2 separate regions of the Homo sapiens genome follow, and region 2 is linked to region 1. A link means that fine-mapping ties the variant in region 1 to the expression of a gene that starts in the linked region. Tissue or cell type: whole blood. Region 1 holds a variant in brackets; the other region holds the start of a gene. All regions are shown on one strand. Distances are from middle to middle.

What was found.
Region 2: it holds the start of FAM30A, and the variant in region 1 is fine-mapped to the expression of FAM30A in whole blood (TOPMed, PIP above 0.99). The same link has a PIP of 0.9 or more in blood mononuclear cells and lung.

Annotation. Positions count from the first base shown.
Region 1 is chr14:105,902,139-105,906,324 of GRCh38, forward strand. It overlaps IGH, IGHD5-12, IGHD4-11, IGHD3-10 and IGHD3-9. Among named protein-coding and RNA genes, the nearest start is that of FAM30A, 14 kb to the right of the region's middle. The variant G/A (reference allele first, on the strand shown) is at 2,441.
Region 2 is chr14:105,916,145-105,920,330 of GRCh38, forward strand. It overlaps FAM30A (family with sequence similarity 30 member A), which reads left to right and starts at 1,835. Exons shown (of 6, transcript NR_026800.2): 1 at 1,835-2,673. It also overlaps IGH, IGHD2-2 and IGHD1-1.

The DNA of each region.
Region 1 (4,186 bases):
ACAGTGCTCTGGGCCCACTGTCTGGGCTCACAGCCTCATTTCCAGGGGGCCGGGTGGTGCTCCAAGCCTCAGTTTCCCCACTGTGGAGGGGATGCTGCTGGAGGGATGAGGATCATAGAGGACAACCTGGCAGCTTCTGTGCCCGCTGCCCGTGGGACCCGGGCTGTGGGATGGGACAGGCTTCCCCATCAGGGCTGGGCCTGCCGGGGGCACAGCACTCTCAAATGCCCACAATGGGGGCTCCGTGGCTCTGTGACTCCGTGGCTCCGTGGTGCTGCCTGCACCTCTCAGGGCGGGAAGCTGCCTTTCCCTGCCAGCCTTTGATTTCTATCTCAATCATCCCTGCCCTGGAGCACAGACCTCCCACTGAGGGAACCCTCCCCACAGAGGGCCAGAGGACAGACAGCAGCCTTGAGAGCCCCAGGAGAAGCAGGTGAAGTGGATGCCTGGGGCTGCGCAGCAGGGGCCTGTCTACTTGGCCTGGTTGCTGCTATGGGCGGCACCACTGTGGTAATCGTAGCCACTATATCCACCACAGTCTGACATCGCCTGACAATAACCACACCTGGAACTGGAGGCGGGGCTGTCAGGAGGAGCTTCCCAGGGAACAGGGAGGGTCCAGACAGCTGAGCCAGGGGCCCCCAGGACTGGGGACGTGGGGGGCTGCTTAGGTACCAGACATGCACAGTGTCTCCCTGGAGAGGCCTCTGCAGCCTCCTGGGCTCTGGGGCAGGCCTCTGGTCAGCAGGAGGCTGGGTGCTCCCCGGCATGTGCTCTCCTGCCCTCACTGGTGAGCTCCTATGTGGCCCAGTGTGGGCCCAGCTCCAGCGTCCACTCCTGTCGGCCTGGCCGAGGGTCCCGGCAGAACTGGGCATGGCTCCTTCTTAGGGGCCTCGAGGACTCTCTCTACAGCTGTACCTGGGGCTGGGGGCTCCACGAGTGGTCTTTTCCAGGTGGGGACGACAATGGCAGGTGTTTCTCTAGTGGCAGGTGAGGGGAACTGTCCAGGGCCTGGCCCTGCGGAACACAGCGGCCTCTCAGAGGAGGGTGTGCGGGAGTCCTGCCTGTTGGGAGCCTGGCGGATGCTGCCTTCTTGATTCCAGCCAGGATGGGAATCCAGGCAATTGGCAGGAGGTACTGGAATGAGGCTGGTGTCTACAGCTATTCAGGGTCCCAGGAATTGGCTGTTGGAATCGGGGCATCTGTCAAGACAGGGTCTGGTATAGCTGGCAGGGAAGGGCCAGGTCACCTGTGGTCATGAGTGAGGTCACCTCAGAGCCCTCTGAAGCCCCTATTTGGAGGAAGATGGTGTGCAGGGCACCAGCCCAGGCTGAGATGGCCCAGGTGTCCCTAGAGGCTGAGGGTCTGGGCACAAATCCTTGGGCCCGGCTCTTGTGCTCCTGGAGAGCTCCAAGCTGAGGCGTGCACACAGCCCCTGGGTTTCCAGCCAGTTTTTGCCACTGGGTTCATCACTATGGTAGTTACTGTAGTCACACAGCAGGAGGGCCCTTCACAAAAAGCCCGAGTGTGGCCAGAGACCTTTCCCACGCAGGCCCTGGTCCAGGCATTTGGGGCCCCTATTGACAGCGGTGCTGCGTCCTGGGGATCTCAGGCCGCTGTGATGCCACTGAGGACTGTCCTGGAAGAGGGTGTCCACTGGGGAGAGAGGCAGGGATTTCTGGAAGGTTCTTTGTCTCTGAATGTGGGAGGCGAGTCCTCTGTTGGCTTCCCCGGTGAGGTCTGGAAATGAGCAGGACTCAGGACGGCCGGGCAGGATGAGCGACGCCCAGCTCCGGCTGTCCCCAGGAATGTCTTCTGTCTTGGAAATGACCCAGGAGAGGCTCAGGTGTCAGGGCCAGGCAGGCCAGGGACCACAGGGGCAGGGACAGTGCACAGGGCCAGCCCCTCCCTCCTGGTGCCCCTACTCAGACATGAGGGCTCTCAGTGTCCACACATGTGGCCCAGCCTTGAGGGAGGGGCTTCTGGGATCGCTGGCCTGATGGCAGCAGATGGTGCTGTGAGGCCGTCCCTGTCCCATTTGGACTGGCGTTGGGAGGGCAGCAGCGATGCAGACCCCTCGGAGCCAGATCTGGATGACCTGTAGGGTGACCTTGGCCATCTGTTTCATGATCTCCAGGGCTGGCAGGCTGGAGCCCAGCGTGGTCAGTCACGGGCCTGTCCATCGTGCCTGCTGCCCTGCGGGTTTGGGTCACAGGCTGCACTGCTGTGGTAGCCACCATACCCATGGTGCTGTCTCCTCGATCAAAATCCTAACATGGCACGTACCGGTCCCCTGCAGGGAGGGCTGTGGCGGGAGGCTCCCAGGGATGGGTTTTTGATGGACTCTGTGACACTGTGGTTATAATAACTCCCCGAACCATAGTAATACCACAGTGACACAGACCTCACCCCAAACCTACCGCCCAGCCTGGGGAAACCC[G/A]GGATGTCCGGGGCTGACCTGAGGAGGCAGCAGGGCCCCATGGGGAGGGCTGTGGCGGGAAGCTTCCAGGCATGGGTTTTTGATGGACTCTGTGACACTGTGGTTATAATAACCAGTCAAAATATCGTAATACCACAGTGACACAGACCTCATTCTAAACCTACCGGCAGGCCTGGGGAAACCTGGGATGTCCAGGGCTGACCGGAGGAGGCAGCAGGGCTCTGAGGGGAGGCTGTGGGCCCAGCGCTCTCAGGTCTGCTGTGGGGACACTCGGGTCTATCCCTCGCTTATGTGGATAGTGTCCGTGCCCACCTGTGTCCTGAGGCTCCACCTCAGGCTGGCATCTGTCCCTATGTCCCTACCCACCCCATGGCCATGTCCTTTCGGGTTCATAAGTTGCCCACAAATCACAGAGTCATCATTCTGGAGATTTTTATATTCCCAGGGCCACCAGCTGCCTCCACCCAGAAAGGTCAGATGTGGGAGACTTCTAGAGTCATTCCCCAACCCTGGATGAGCTTCTGCACCCTCAGTGCTACTCAGGCTCCAGCAAGACCTGGAGCAGGTGCAGGTGAGGCCCGAGGCCAGGTGAGGTCCAGGTCAGGTGAAGCCCAGGCCAGGTGAAGTCCAGGCCAGGTGAGGTCCAGGCCAGATGAGGTCCAGGTCAGGTGAGGCCCAGGCCAGGTGAAGCCCAGGCCAGATGAGGTCCAGGTCAGGGGAAGCCAAGGCCAGGTGAGTTCCAGGACAGGTTAAACCCAGGTCAGGAGACGTTCAGGTGAGTTGAGGCCCAGGTCAGGTAAAGCTTGGGACAGGCGAGGTCCAAGTCAGGTGAGGCCAAGGTCAGGTGAAGCCCAGGTTAAGTGAGGCCCAGGCCAGTGAGGTCCAGGTCAGGGGAGGCTGAGGTGGATGTGTGAGGCGTCTGCAGTTTTCTCTGGGTGCTCACCCTGCCTGGTGTCCCTGCCCCTCCTCTCAGCACCCACTCTGTGCCTGCAAGGTGGTGGCCCGTGCACAGGTGGTGCTGGCTGCGGAGGTGCTGGGCTCTGCCTCCCTGTGCGTGGGCGTCCCTCTCGGGCTCTGCCTGGGGAGTGTGGCTGAGTTGCTTCTCTCTGGAATTCACTGACTGTGCCGTCCTCCGGGATATATGGCCCTGCGCTTGCTCCACATCAGGCCCCAGGAACTGCCAGCAGGTACCCGCCTGCCCTGCTGCACAGTGAGCCTGCAACCTGTCCGGGGATCCCAGGGAGGTGAATGCCACCACACATCAGCCCTTTATCTCTTTAAAGTCGTTTATTTGGGGATACATCATCGATGTCTCATATACTAAATATATGTCTGTATCATTGTGCAATTGCCTGTGTCATCGCTTATTTATCCGACCTGGGTTAATGTCTTTGCTATTATGAACAGTGCTGGACTGAGAATTTTCTAAACACAACTGTGTCCATTTTCCTCTTCTTGCAATTTAGAAGTTTAACTGCTGTTTTCAAGGTACTGTAATGTATTCGTTCTGTTCTTGTTAGGAGACTTGCCCACCCTGTGTATCTCAGTTCATACCCTCTTCCTTCCCCAGCAGAAGTAACCACCACTGTGTTTATGTGATCATCCTTTTCTTGGTTTTCTTTATGGTTTTCTAACTGGGAAATGTATCCCTTAAGAAGACAGTTCATTTTGCAGGGTGTAAATTTTATTTAGAAGAAATCACATTGAAAGTATTTTTTGGAGTTTACTTTGTTACTCCAATTACTC
Region 2 (4,186 bases), 14 kb after region 1:
GGCTCTGGAGCTGGCATTGCCTGCAGGGCTCTGCTTTGTTGCAGGGAGTTCCTGCCAAGGCTTTTCAGAGTGTCTGTGCCCAGCCTGAAGGTACACACTGTACTTTGCCCTTGCATCAGGCACTTTCCTTGTGCTTGCTTCTGTGTGGCTCCACATTCTGGAGAATTTATTCAGATCTGTGCTGCAAATCCATTTCACTGATTCTCTCTTTAGCTGTGTCTACATCAGCTGTTAAGCATCCCATGATGCAGCATTGTGGGCACAGGGCAAACTCTTGAAAGATGACAGTGTAGGATAGCGGCTGCTTCTCCTTCCCTGTGCCCTTCCCACACTGTCCTCCTGGGCTCACTCCCAGCCATCGATCTTGAACACCAGTTTATGGAACTATCTGCACAGGAAAGCAGAAACAGCAAAAGGCCCTGCTCAGGCTCTGCCCGCATCCCCTCTTGCACACCCGCCAAAGCTCTTTCCTTGGGGCCTGTGCAAGCTTCCCAGCTGCTTCTCATTTTCTGTTTACTCTGCTCACTGGCCAGTGGGGTGATGTCTGGGGGGGAGTCTGGTGCGTTTTGGGCATTGATGGCCACCCCTAGGCCCTACTTCCCAGACGCTCCCCCCAGCCCCTCAGCTCCAGAAGTGGAAGCGTTTACAGCAGGGCTTTGGGAATGGGGCTGTGTCACTGTGGGCATAGCAGCTGGTACTACTACAATATCCTCACAGTGACACGAGCCCCCACAAAATCCTCCTGTCCCCGCGGGAGTCACTGAGTCCCCTCTTGCTGTCTCTGGCTAGTTCTCCTGCTGATACTATGATTTCCAGGGGGTTTTTGTCTGAAACTCAGGGTGTGTTGGAGAGGACTCTGAGCCCAGTGCTGTACAGGGGGCTCCTCCTTTGTCCTGGGGGAGTTGCGTGGACCCTGTTTTTGGTCAAGGGAAGTACTTGCTGGTGAAGGAGACCTCCCCTCCTTTCTTTCTCAGGAGCCCCCTCTGATGCCGTTGCCTGGTGTTTCTCAGGGCTGGTGCTGGGGGCTCAGCAGTGTCTGCCCTGTTCCAGGTGGGAATGTGGGTCTGTTCTGTTTCCACGCGGTGTTCTGGGGCCGCCAGTGAGGGGCTCGGGATGTCAGCGGCTGGTCTCTGTCCCTATGGTCTGGGCTCCGGTTCACTGCTCCCCTGCCCTCCAGGTCGGTCACTGACTCAGTTACTATCCAGCGGGCTCCGTGGCTGTTCAGTGGTGGCTGCAGGTCTCTTCCCAGGAGAGGCCTGCGAGAGGGCTGGGCTGTCTGGGAGCCCTGCATTCTCCCATGATGTTGCTGCCTGGATCCCTCGTCTTTACAGGGAGTGCCGAGCCTCCCTGCAGGTGCGGGCAGTGAGAGACACAGGCGGACGTGCATCAGGGTGCTGGAGGCCGATTTCTTTCAGTGCCTTCTGCCTGTGGAAGGGCTGAGCTCCCTGCTTCTGTGCACAGGAGGCTGCCGTGTAACCGGGCAGTGAGGGCAAGGGCCTGCATGGGGAAGACTTGGGTGAGCCTTTGTCCTGGAAATACCAGGGCTGGGTCCAAGAGGGGAGCAGGGTCAGAGTGTCCAGGAGGAAGGTGAGGGCATGGGCAGTGTGGGGGTGGGAGTGCACGGTCAGTGCCATGGCTCAGGGGCCCCAGGAGAGGAAGAGCTCGAGTTGTGGGCAGGAGGAGGCAGGGGGTAGGCACAGAGGGTAGAAACTGAGGCTCTGGCAGCAGAAAAGGGGAGGGCCTGCATGTGCAGGGTTGGCCTGGGAGGGGTGTCTGGAGGGAGAGACAGGGGTCTGGGTGGAGACCAGGGTGTAGGCTGCAGGGATGGGACCCCAGGGTTGTCTGGATGGGCAGGAAGAGCAGCGGGGGAGAAAGGGCTGGAGGCAGGGTTGGGCCTCCCCAGGGTGTGGGGTGCAGGGAGGGGCTGCACAGGCTGTTCCCCTGAAGGAGGGAGGAGGGAGGGAGCACAGAGGTGCTGGGAGCAAATGGAGAGGGAAGTGGCAGCGGCCCGAGTGCCAGGCGGTCCCGGTTTGGGGTTGATCTTTGTGGAACAGCTCCCTGGCCCGTGTGTAAGTGGTCGGGGGAGGCACGGAGGTCTGGAGCTACAAGCGGTGGCAGGAAGGCAGGTCCCAGTCTTGGGGGTCTGGAGCTTATCTTCTTCCTGTGAACTGAGTGTGGGCAGCACCTATGGGCGGTGCCCTGGACCTGTGGTCTGGTGGAGTCCAGGCCTCCCAGGGACAGCAGGGCAGCCAGGGCTAGAGGAGCCTGAGGGTCCAGGTCAGGGTGGCCCTGGGGCCACTGCCTCCACCTTTGACCAGCTCTGCTGTGGGGATCTGGGCATGAGACCCCTTCACCCAGGAGGGGAGCCGCGTGAGTGAGACCCTAAGTCCATACCCCATGGGGGGCTCTGACCCTCCTGCATAGGGCCTGGACAGGGGTGGGTGGGGTGTGCGGGGGGCGGTGGGGAGCCCAGACTCTCCCAGACACAGCCTGCTCTGCTCCAGAATGTGGGCTTGGGCACTGCAGGCTGGCTGGGTCTGGGCTGCCTGGTGTGCCTGTGGTGGCTGCATTCCCACAGCCGGGACTGAGGCCTAGTGAGGACCAGGGAGGAGCCTGAAGGGAGCTCCATGGAGGACCTGCCTCGGATGACACCCCTATCTTAAGAAGGTCATGGTGGGTTCCAGCTGGGAGGAAGGGAAGTGGGCCACCTCCTGGGGGTCTTCCACCCCCACCACCTCAGCCTGGGGCCTCTGTGATTCCTCTCTGCACAGACCCCAAAGTCTGTGCTGCCGCAGGGCAGGAAGGAAGGGCCTGTGGCCTGGTCGAGGTTGGGGCCACAGTGGTGTTCCCTAAGCCCGAGTCTGGTCTCATGGCCCGCCCCGCAGCAGGTCCTGAGTGAGGGACAGAGACCGGGGCGGGGTCTTTGGTCCTGGTGGACTCTGGGGTGGATTCCAGTGGGGAGTCATCAGGGTCGGTGTCCCCCAGGGTACTGGGGTGTCTCTGCTCCTGGAGTCGGCTCTGGATGTGGGGTTTATGCCTGTGCTGCCTGGGGTTGATGCTGGGAGGTGCCAGTGACCCCCGTTTCCCTGAGGGACTCTTGTCGGTGGTAGGGTCAGTTCTGGCCAGGAGCACTGGGACCATAGCAGTAGGATGGGGTCCAGCCCCTTCCATGACCCCCTGGAGCCCTGGTCCCCGTCCTCACCATTCAGTGGGGTTCAGTGGGGACTCCACTGTGCTCTGGCTGCTGGGGGTCGTGTGAGCTGAGCAGGACCTAGGTTCGGGGCGGCTGCTCCCCTCTCTGGCGCGGCCTCCAGCAGGGGCCAGGAGAGAGTTTTGGACACAGTTTTTCTCACGGTGGTCGTTCCAGTTGTACCCACCGTGACTCGGGGCTGTTCAGAATCTGCCCCGGCGCCCTGAGCTCTGGGGCCTCCTGGATGGGGGCTGGGCTTGTGGGCGGCATCTCCTTCGGGGGCTCTGGAGGCTGGGGCTCGCTTTAGTTGTGGGGTGAGCACTGGGAGCCCCAGTTAGCGGAACACCCACAGAGACCGGGGCCTGTACACATTCCGCCCCGGTGTGTGGGGTGGGCCCAGGCCCCTCTGGGCAGGTCAGCTTCAACGGGGAGGGTGCTTGGGTCCTGTTAGTTTTCCTCTGGGTTAATAGGATTCATCTCCTGGCCCCAGATCCTCATAGGCTGCCCCTGTCCCTCCAGCAATGCAGGACATGGCAGGTCACCCTGGAGGGAGGCATGTTCTGGCCTGGGCGTCAGGTGTGGCACCTCAGATCCTCCATGCGTGCTGTGGGCTGAGCAGGACAGCAGACGACCCCGGGCCCCCACCCTGTCTATGGACATTTTTTGCTGCAGCAGCTGTGGGAGCTGACAGTGTTCACAGCCACACCAAGGTCATCATTGTAGTCAAGGCTTTCTAAAAGTTTCATTGTGAGGAAGCCTCCTATTAAACGGCGCCTGGGCCCTGCTTCCTGAGGGTTACTGCTGAGTCCCGGATTTCCCGTAGAGGCGACGAGAGGAGAGCAGAGGGAGGAGGAGGGGGATGAGCTGGGCCCTGCAGAAGGGGGTGCTTGGGTTGGGGTCTGTGGAGTGAAGATCTGGGCTCCTAGGGGCCACCCAGACAACCATCCTCCCTGTTCACACCTTGAGGGTCCCAGCAGGAGCCAGGTGGGGAGACTG